Linked DNA regions of Homo sapiens. The protein of the gene in region 1 interacts with the protein of each later gene in a pairwise test. Each region holds a gene or a part of one and is shown in the gene's direction. Other genes may lie near its edges. The genes, in order: CRY1, NPAS2 and CLOCK.

Region 1 (3,753 bases):
CTAGAGATCCAGTATAAACAAAACAGCCCCCAATTCTCACCCTGTTGGAGCTACATTCTAGTGGAGCCGTGAGACTGACAGCATTAATAAAATGAGATAGACAAGAGATGCAAATGGTGCAAGGGCTGAACCTTGAATACTCTTAATGTTTATAAATTGTGGAGCTGTGAAAGAACCAGCATATGAGACTGCGAAGGAGCCACTAGTAATGTAAGAAGAAAACCCAGAAGAGTATGGTGTCTTAGAAGCCAAGTAAAGAAAGTATTTTGGTCAGGCATGTAATCCCAGCACTTTGGGAGGCTGAGGCAGGCAGATCACTTGAGGCCCGGAGTTTGAGACCAGCCTGGCCAATATGGCAAAACCCCGTCTCTAGTAAAAAACACAAAAAAATTAGATAGGCGTATGGCACATGCCTGTAATCCCAGCTACTCGAGGAGGCTGAGGCAGGAGAATCGATTGAACCCAGGAGGCAGAGGTTGCAGTGAGGCGAGATCGTGCCACTGCACTCCAGCCTGGGCAACAGAGCCAGACTCTGTCTCAAAAAAAAAAAGAAAAAGAAAAAAAAGAAAGAAGGAAAATATTTCAAGGAAGAGTGTTTTACTTACGTCAGATGCTACCGATAGGTCAAGAGGAGAACTGAAAAATAAAAATTGGATTTAGCAATTTTAGGTCATTTGGAATTTTATCTGGAGTGGTTTTGGTAGTGTCAGAGGCAAAAGTCTTTTTGGAATCACTCATAGTACCAAATTCAGTGCTTTTTATATAGTAGTAGCTCAATTATTGTTTGTTGAATATAGTGATATCTTGGAGTCAATAATTTTATATTTAAACAGCTTTATTAATTTACTTATTGACTATGGGATAATGCCCAAATTCCTTAGCCTGGCAAGATCTACCTTTTGGCTTATGTATTTCATTTTCTGCTGTTTACAATATGTGATTTCAACTCCAGGGGGAAAACCCTCTTAGTTTTCTTTAGAAGCTATCTTGTATTTTCTTCGGTCAACACTTTTTAGACTTTTGGATTTAACAGAAAAGCAAAATTTTAAATAGTATTCTACCTAATAAGCACATTAACAAAACCACTTTTTGATATTGCCATCCTTTCATTTAAAAAGGATGTTTTATATTTAAAAAAAAAAAGTTTGGCAGAGCTCAATGTCTCATGCCTGCAATCCCAGCTACTCAGGAGGCTGAGGCAGGAGAATCACTTGAGCCCAGGAGTTGGAAGCTGCAATGAGCTATGAATGGGCTACTGCACTCCAGCCTGGGTACACAGAGAGACCCTATCTCTTAAAAAACAAACAAACAAACAACAACAACAAAAAATTTGAAGGACATTGTCTCAGAATAACATGTTTTTGATTTGGGTAAATTTACAAGCTTTATGAAAATTTGCATCTCTTAGAAAAATTATCCTATACAAAAACTTATACACTAACATTCACAGAAGCATTATTCATAATAGCCAAAAGGTGGGAACAACCCAAATGGCCATCAGTTGATGAATGGGTAAACAAAATATGGTATATCCATATAATGGAATATTATTTGGCCATAAAAAGGAATGAAGTACTGATATACGCTACATGTATGAATGAACCTTAAAAACAAACTAAACGAAAGAAGCCAGTCACAAAATTCCATGTGTTATATGATTCTGTTTATATGGAATGTCCACAGTGGGCAAATGTATAGAGAGAGGAAGCAGACTAGTGGCTCCTTAGGACTGGGGAAGCTAGGGAGTTGGGAGGTGATAGCTAAGGGGCACAAGGTTTCTTTTTGAGATGATGAAACTGTTCTAGAAGGTGATGGATGATTGTACAACTCTGTGCTTGTCTGGGATGATTAGCAGTATTCTGAACTCTTGCACCACTTTTTGCTGTTGCTCCTCACATCACTCTTAGCATTTGCTGCCCTCATTTGTGAATGTTAGTATTGTTTTATTAATAGTTTGTTTGAGCTGCTATAACAAAATACCTTTAGACTAGGTAGTTTATAAACAACAGGAATTTATTTCTCACAGTTTTGGAAGATGTCCAGAATCAAGGCACCAGCAGATTCAGTGTCTCTGCTGAATAGACGATGCTTTCTCTGTCTCCTCACATGGCAGAAGGGGTAAACAAGTTCCTGCAGCCCTTTTTATAAGAGCACTCCCTTAGTCTGTTTGTGTTATTATAAAGGGATACCTGAGGGTGGGTAATTTATAAAGAAAAGAGGTTTACTTGGTTCATAGTTTTGCAGGCTTTACTAGAAGCATGGCTTCAGCCTCTGGTTCTGGTGAGGACCTCAGAAAGCTTTTAATCATGATGGAAGGGGAAGTGGAGCTGACATATCACATGGCGAGAGAGAGAGGGGAGGGATACCAGTCTCTTTTTAATAATTAATTGTTCTGTTAATTAATAGAGTGAGAAGTCACTCATTACGTGATAGCACCAAGCCATTCATGAGGGATCTTATCTCATGTTCCAAACACCTCTCACCTCCAACATTGGGGATAACATTTTAACATGAGATTTGAAAAGGACAAATATCTAAACTATATCACTCCACTTCTAGCCCCCCAAATATCTTGTCTTATTTATTTATTATTTTTATTTTTATTTTTGAGACGGGGTATCACTCTGTTGCCCAGGCTGGAGTGCAGAGGCGTGATCATGGCTCACTGTAGCCTCAACCACCTGGGCTCAAGCAGTTGTCCCACCTCAGCCTCCCAAGTAGCTGGGACCACAGGCATGCATTACCATGGCCAGGTAATTTTTTTTATTACTTGTAGAGGTGAGATCTCACTAAGCTGTCTCATACTCCCGGGCTAAAGCAATTCTCCTGCCTCAGCCTCTGAAAGTGCTGGGATTATAGGTGTAAGCCACCATGCCCACCCTCTTTTTTCTATTGTAAGATATAATCATCTCTTTCAAAGTCCCCAGAAATCTTAACTAGTTTCAACATCAACTCAAAGTCTAAAATCTTATCCGAGACTCAAGGCAGATTCCTTATAGCTATGAACCTGTAAGATCAAAAACAAGTTATCTACTTTTAAGATACAATGGTGGAACAGACATTGGGTAAATATTTTCATTTTAAAAGGGACAAATTGACCAACAAAAAGGGACCCACCCAAGTCTGAAACCTACAAGGGCAGACATTAAATCTTAAAGCTGTAAAATAATCTCGCTTGACTCTTGTCCCATAACTGAGCACACTGGTCCAAGAGGTGGGCTCTTGAAGCCTTGGGCAGCCCCATCTCTATGGCTTGGTTGGGCACAGACCACATGGCTTCTTTCATGGATTGGAGTCTAATGTCTGTCACTTCTCCAGGCTGAGGGTGTGTGCTGTTTTCATCCAAAGGATTCTTTTAATCTTTCCACTTCCTCACTTTCCACTCCCTCCCACATCCTGAGCACACTGGTCCAAGAGGTGAGCTCTCAAAACCTTGGGCAGCTGCATCTCTATGGCTTGGTTGGGCATAGCCCACATGGCTGCTCTCATGGATTGGAGTCTAATGTCTGTCACTTTTCCAGGCTGAGGGTGTATGCTGTTTACATCCAAAGGATACTTTTAATCTTTCCACTCCCTGACTTTTCTTTTCCTTTTCTTTTTTTCTTTTCTCTTTTCTTTTCCTTTCTTTCTTTTTCTTTCTTTCTTTGTTTCTTTCTTTTTCTTTTTCTTAACAGTATTTAACACATTTGACCACACCTTTCTCTTCTTCTCTTGGCTTTAGTTAGACTGCCACCACTGTGGGTCCTGGAGGGC
Region 2 (3,753 bases), on another chromosome or scaffold:
GGCCTAGGACAGTAATGCCCTCCTAGATGTTTGAGAAGATGTAAGAAGATGCGTGAGAGCAGATTTTGTCACCTGGGCCACACTAGGGAACTAGCAAGTTTTGTTGTAGGCGTTGTGTTCCTCTGGGGGTGACCCCTAAATCCTGAGCCCTGTCTCCTCAGTGGCCCAGACCCAACCCCTGTATCAGCCTGGGCTCCCAAGGGGGAGTTTCAGGACAGAGGCCCTTGAACCCCAGGTATGCCAGCCAAGACAGGGGCAGGGAAGGGGGTGTCAATGATGCCGAGACACCCCTACTTTCCCTGGGACCATCAGTATCAGGAACACTGATTATAGAATTCACCTTAAAACACTGGCTGGAGTATTCAAACCGTTACTGCAGAATGAGGCTGTCTTCTCTTTTTTTTGTTTGTTTTGTTTTGTTTTGTTTTGTTTTGTTTGGAGACAGAGTCTTACTGTGTCACCCAGGCTGGAGTGCAGTGGTGCTAACTTGGCTCATTGCAACCTCCGCCTCCCAGGTTCAAGTGATTCTCAGCCTCCCAAGCAGTTGGGATTACAGGCACACACCACCATGCCCAGCTAATTTTTGTTTTTGTTTGTTTGTTTGTTTTTTAGTAGAGATGGGGTTTCACAGTGTTGGCCATGGTGGTCTCGAACTTCTGGCCTCAAGTGATCTTCCCGCCTCAGCCTCCCAAAGTGCTGGGATTACAGGCGTGAGCCACTGTGCCTGGCCTGTGTTCTCATTTTGTAGACTATTTTTCCCAGCATTATAAGCCATAGGGCTAGTGGAAGTGAGAGGCAGTGCTGAATGCTGGTGACCAGCATGGGCTCAAATCCCAGCTCTAGCAAGCTTTTTGGTCTTGCACAAGTTACTTCCCTCTGTTCCTCGGTTTCCTCTTTTTGCAATGGGAATAATAGTTGACCTACCTCATCCAGTTGTGAAAATGAAATGAGTTAATATACTCTACATAAACCCTGGGGGCAGCGCTTGGCTTACAGTTAAGTGCCAACTAGGGATTGGCTGCTGTCACCAGACAGGGCTAACCTATGTGTCCTCTTCTTCCCAACCCCCCAGTGCCTAGCCCCTCCTGTAATGGTTTTGACAACACCCTTTCAAGACCTTGCCGGGTGCCACTAGGAAAGGAGGTTTGCTTCATTGCCACCGTTCGTCTGGCAACACCACAATTCTTAAAGGCAAGTACCTGAGAGGCAGTTCATTGTGCGGAGCTGTTATGATTGACTCACATTTTGTTATATGTAATTAATGGTCTTTTGGGAGGGAATAAATTGCAGTGAAGTTGTCACTGGCTTTGAAAATCGAAGTGTCTGGCTTCTGTGCCTGCACACACGCCCTTTCCCCTGCCCCGTTTCCTGCAAGTGGTTCTCTTTGAAGGCAGCATCGCTTGCTGTTCAGCCCGCAGAAGTGCTGTCTGATAACTGTAAATCTTCCCACCTTTCACACCGGCGTTAATACCATGCAGGCCAGGCCTGGGTGAGAACCGAGTGTTGGAGCGCTGGGGGTTTGTCTGCCTTCTCTCATCTGTGATTGCTTCAACATCGATGGCATGAATGTTGAGTTAAATGAGTAATTCAGATTCCGATGAAAAGCCATTTTCCACATGTTTGCCACTTCTCGATAATGGGAAGGGATGGTGTGACATTCTGGCTCCTAGGTATTTTTCCCTAGCTTGTGAAATAAATTTAGTATCAGCTAATACCGAAATTAGCTACAGATGATGAGTTTCAGTCCAACACGACTTGGAGACTTGCTCGAAATGATTTTAACTTCTGTTACCCACCACGCGTTCCTCTTGAACAAACCTAGGGTGAGCATCTGGCACCCAAGCAACTTTTTTTTTTTTTCTGCTTCCAATACAGGAAATGTGCATAGTTGACGAACCTTTAGAGGAATTCACTTCAAGGCATAGCTTGGAATGGAAATTTTTATTTCTGGATCACAGGTTTGAGAAAAGAAAAACATATTTGGGTTGGGCCCTTCTCAAGTCTTGTTTGCGTGAGCCAGGCTCTCCTTGGGAGAGAAGAGTCGGCCCTGGTCCATTGAAAGAGGAGGACTCTCTGGCACTAGGAAAAGTCGTCCCTGCCAAGGGTGGGTGGTTTCCCTCCAACTTCATCTGCCCCATCGTGAATATGTTCTGTGTTTGGGTCTGATGGCTCAGCCCCGGGCCATCTTTGGGATGATCCTCACTTGAGGCCCTTCCCGGCTCCCAGTAAGGCAGCAGCAAGTGTGAGAGAAATCTCTCATCTCATTTTTTTCAACATCCTTTGATCTTTTAGCCCAATCTTTACTGTTTCTTTTGTAACATTATTTGCAGTTGAAGAACTCCAAATCTCCCCTCCCCACCCTTTAATTTATATTACACTTTGGTGTTGGGCTGATCCAATTTGTAGCTGTTTTTAATTACCCAGTAGTGATAAAGCTTATTGTTATTTGGGCCAAGTTATGCCAAGGGAAAGGAGTATCTATATGCCAAAAAAAAAAGCTGAGCCCTTTGGAAAACACAGCCTCTCTGATTTTGACCATTACAAAGTTATTTTTCTCCCCTTGTTCTTGAGAAATGAGGCCTCCATGTTGATCATTATGGAAAGGCATGGCCACCAGGGTGAGCCCTGCAGGGTGTCTCCTCCCTGATGACAAGTCCTCCTTGTCCTTGTGCAGAGCACCTCCAATCATAGGATACCTGCCTTTTGAAGTGCTGGGAACCTCAGGCTATGACTACTACCACATTGATGACCTGGAGCTCCTGGCCAGGTGTCACCAGCACCGTGAGTACCACTGCCCAGCCCAGGCATGGGGGCCTTGCGTTCACTCCACTGGGGCCCAGCAGCAGGGCTCTGGGACTCCAGAAGCCTCTGCTCGTTACCTGGTTTCTTTTTAAGGTGAGGAACTTGGTTTTCTCTGAGATGATCTGGGGGCATGGTGGAGGCCCCTTATCCGCGTCTACCCCCATGTCACTGGAATTCACTTGGCCCCAAACCCTAGCACCTTCCCACTGTCATCCAGATAGGCGCCCTGTTTAAACCTAATTAAGAAATTAAGGTGATGCAGGGATTTTTTTTTTTAAGTTATGCAATACATTTCAGAGATAAAATACCGAATTCTCATAACTGTTCTTTCATCAGCAGATAAGTATTGGTCACTAACCATAGGCCAGATACTGAGTAGGCTGGCATATGGGGATGATCAGTACCTACTTGCTGTCCCGCAGGGCAGGTCTTCTGGGAAAGCCAGAAATGGGTGACTTTGTGGGATGTGGTCGGTGCATTGAAGGGGATGTACACAGCATACTGGGGGACTCAAGAGGACCCTCACAGCTGGGGTTCAGGGAAGGCTCTTTGCCACATACGAGGCGAACACATTAGCAAATGTATGGGGGATGGGACTTACGATGTGGGGGAGTGAGAATTACAAGCTTGTCCGAGTTCTCACTTAGCAAGTGGTTTCAAGAATTAACCACTTACAGCTGTATTTTCAGTGCCAACTCTTAACTTGAAATAGGAACACTGACCTATTGATCCTAATGCATGAATCGACCACTAACATTGTGCTTTAAAAGATGCCTCACCTGTAGTACCCATTAGAACTTTTTTTTTTTTTTTTTTTTTTGAGACAGACAGATTCTCGCTCTGTCACCCAGGCTGGAGTGCAGTGGCGCAATCTCGGCTCACTGCAAGCTTCACCTTCTGGGTTCAAGCAATTCTCCCACCTCAGCCTCTAGAGTAGTTGGGATTACAGGC
Region 3 (3,753 bases), on another chromosome or scaffold:
GTGGCTCTCGCCTATAATCCCTCCACTTTGAGGCAGGAGGATTGCTTGAGCCTAGAAGCTTGCAACCAGCCTGGGCAACATAGTGAGACCCCATTTCTATAAAAAATTAAAAATTAGCCAGGCATGGTGGCTCACACCTGTAGTCTTGCGTACTTGGGAGGCTGAGGCAGGGGGCTCACTTGAGCCCAGGAGTTCAATGCCACAGTGAGCAGTGATCATGCCACTGCACTCCAGCCTGGGTGACAAATCAAGACCCTGTCTCAAAAAAAAGAAGAAAGTAAGGACCCAAAGGTGTAGATGCTAAAGGAATAAGGAACAGTGATGTGGCCCGGGTCCTAGAGAAAATAGGAAAGACTATAAATGGTAGAGATGGAAGGATTAGCTTTAGAATGTGAAGCAAAACTTTCCTTTGAAAGTGAGTAAAGAATGAAAAGGATGAGTAGCTAAAAATAGGGAAACATTAAGTTGTTTGCACCAGAAAATCTATTTTTTCTATTAAAGACAAAGTGAGATCCTCTCCTGAAGGTGCTCTACTTTTATGAACTAAATGTCATTGACGACTTCTGTTGGGGAAAATAATGGTTGTAAACTTACACAACTTTTATGATCTTACTTTATGTGGTATATCAATCATTGTTTTATATCAGAAATATGTGATTTTTAAAATCTCTTTTATTTCAGCAAAAAATCAGTTAGAATTCTGTTGTCACATGCTGCGAGGAACAATAGACCCAAAGGAGCCATCTACCTATGAATATGTAAAATTTATAGGAAATTTCAAATCTTTAAACAGTGGTGAGTTAAAATGCTTCTCTCACAATGTGTTTTAACTTGTTATTTTTCTGTGCTCTTAAAGACATAGATGTTTGAATATCAGTGACAATTAGGTTTTGCTGGCATAACTGATGATACATATTTCCCTATTGTTTTAGTATCCTCTTCAGCACACAATGGTTTTGAAGGAACTATACAACGCACACATAGGCCATCTTATGAAGATAGAGTTTGTTTTGTAGCTACTGTCAGGTTAGCTACACCTCAGTTCATCAAGGTATGTTTTTAATTTTATTTCCCAAAGGGGATTTCAGTTCATATGCTGAGAGCTGCCTGAAACTTCCTGCAGACATTGAGGTGGAATGGCTATGAGTCATTAAATATGCATGATAATATTTTTGAAACGATGAGTTATCAAGACACTCATTAAATTGTATAACTAATTTTTTAGTATATATCCTTTGCAGTTAACCAGTGATTATTATATATCAATATTGCCCTACTTTTGTGGAAGATTTTAGGATCCTTTTGTGTGTTGTTCATTATCTCTATTAAAAGGGAAAGTCCAAAAATCTAGGTTTTTGGAATCTTTATTTTTAGAAGGTAACTTTTAAATTTTTATTTGAAATGTACAAGTGGCTCTTTGCCACATATAACTTACCTTTTCAAATGTAAAATTAGGTATTTTATTTTTATTTCCTGGACCCAACAAACAGATGACAAGTAGGGAAGTGGGAAAGTGAAAGAGTTAACCACTAGAAACTGACTGGAAAGAGGCAGCCAGGCTAAGATTTAAAATTTCGGCGGGGCCAGGCGAGGTGACTCATGCCTGTAATCCCAGCACTTTGGGAGAGCAAGGCGAGAGGATTGCCTGAGCCCAGTAGTTTGAGACCAGCCTGGGCAACGTGACAAGACCCCATCTCTACAAAAAATACAAAAAATTAGCCAGGCATGGTGTTACACACCTGTGGTCTCAGTTACTCAGGAGGCTGAGGCAGGAGGATCATTTGAGCCCAGGAGGTCGAGGCTGCAGTGAACTGTGTTTGCATTTTATTTTGAGACAGAGTCTGACTCTGTCTCAAATAAATTTGGGGGGACATCATAGTATAGGACAAAGTACTGAATTAATAGAAGATCTTAAGCCAGTCTTGCTTGGTTTGTTTTGATCTTATGAAATAATAGTTGTTAACATTTGAGTGCTTACTACATGCTGTGTATTTTATATGCATTATCTCATTAATTCTTATGACAACCCTATAAGTTAGATGCCATTACGATCCCTCATTTTACATTATAAGGAAACAGGCTTAGGGAAGTTAAGTGACTTGCCCAAAGTCTCAGCTATTAGTGATGAAACTGGGACTTGATTCTATTAATTAATAATTGTTTTTTTCTCAAAGCCCAAGCTCTCAACTATTACAGAGTGCTGCAGGTCATTCAGGGACACAGAGGCAGGATGGAATACATTGTTTAGTATGACTAGAGTCTAGGGTTAGTGTGTGGAGGGGGAAGAGATAGTGGGAGGTAAGGCTAGAAAAGTAATCAGAAACCAGAAATAAAATTTGTTTCTTTCTTGTTTATTTCTCCATGCTGAAGAGAGTTTAGCACAAGGAACCACTGAAGGTTTTTTAGCAGGGAAGTCATATAATATTTGAGTATTGGTAAGGTAATTGTGGCCCTAGAAGAGAAGATGAGTTGAAGGACAGGGAGACTGGTGAACACTGTAGCAAATCAGTGATGGCAGGGGTCTAAACCAATGCACTCAAGATGGATGAGATAGAATTGATTTTTAAAATACTTAGATGAAATGGAAAAGATTTAGTAATGGCCACTTAGATGATGAAAGGTAAAAATGAAAGAGTATGTTTTTTTAACTATCAGATTTCTAGACACTGGCCACTACACATGTATAGAATAATACGGAAAATTGTGTGATTGGGTGTGAGGAGTAAAGCAGTTAGTTTATTTTAGGACATATTGAATTTGAGATGTATGAGGACATTCAGATATTTGGAAATATGGAACTGTAATTCAGGAGAGAGGTCTGAATTTTGAATAAGCGTTTATAGGCATGTGTGAATGGAAAATGTGTAGAGTGAGAAGTACCCACCCAAAAGCTTGCATCTAAAGGTTATTTATTACCACATTCTTTAGTACTGGAAAATTAAAATATATTAACTTGTTTAGAAGGGCCTGCATTTTGGCTTATGCCTAGAATCCCAGCACTTTGGGAGGCTGTGGTGGGCAGGTTGCTTGAGCCCAGGAGTTGAAGACCAGCCTAGACAACATAGACCCCCCACCTCTACAAATAAAAATACAAAAATTAGCCGGGCGTGGTGGTGCATCCCTATAGTCCCAGCTACTTGGGAAGCTGAGGCAGGAGGATCGCTTGAGCCTAGGATGTTGAGGCTGCAGTGAACTGAGATCACACCACTGTACTTCAGGCTGAGTGACAGAGTGAGACCCTGTGTCAAACAAAGAAATAGGTAAATATATACATACATAGAAACAACTAACTTGTTTAGGAAAAGTTTATCTAGTAATGACTATTTATTTATGTATTTATTTAACCTCCACCTCCTGGGTTCAAGTGATCCTGCTGCCTCAGCCTGCCGAATAGCTGGGATTACAGGTGCCCGCCACCGTGCCCTGCTATTTTTTGTATTTTTAGTAGAAATCGGGTTTCACCATGTTGGCCAGGCTGGTCTCAAACTCCTGACCTAAGTGATTTGCCCACCTCAGCCTCCCAAAGTGCTGGGATTACAGGTGTGAGCCACTGCACCTGGCCATGACTTATTTTTATATGTAGCAATATTTAATATTCTTAAGGACACAAAGTATTTATAAATTTTAATTATTTATTTGTAGGAAATGTGCACTGTTGAAGAACCCAATGAAGAGTTTACATCTAGACATAGTTTAGAATGGAAGTTTCTGTTTCTAGATCACAGGTAATTCCATTTTTAAATTCCATGAAAA

The links.
Region 2: the proteins of CRY1 (region 1) and NPAS2 interact in a two-hybrid assay, tested with the Homo sapiens proteins (one study listed by BioGRID).
Region 3: the proteins of CRY1 (region 1) and CLOCK interact in a two-hybrid assay, tested with the Homo sapiens proteins (one study listed by BioGRID).

The regions. Positions count from the first base shown.
Region 1 is NC_000012.12:107,086,894-107,090,646, reverse strand, and holds part of CRY1 (cryptochrome-1), read left to right. Parts: intron 1-3,753.
Region 2 is NC_000002.12:100,962,986-100,966,738, forward strand, and holds part of NPAS2 (neuronal PAS domain-containing protein 2), read left to right. Parts: intron 1-1,072; coding exon 1,073-1,191; intron 1,192-1,875; coding exon 1,876-1,958; intron 1,959-2,674; coding exon 2,675-2,781; intron 2,782-3,753. UniProt on the Homo sapiens protein: Transcriptional activator which forms a core component of the circadian clock.
Region 3 is NC_000004.12:55,456,190-55,459,942, reverse strand, and holds part of CLOCK (circadian locomoter output cycles protein kaput), read left to right. Parts: intron 1-681; coding exon 682-795; intron 796-932; coding exon 933-1,051; intron 1,052-3,642; coding exon 3,643-3,725; intron 3,726-3,753. UniProt on the Homo sapiens protein: Transcriptional activator which forms a core component of the circadian clock.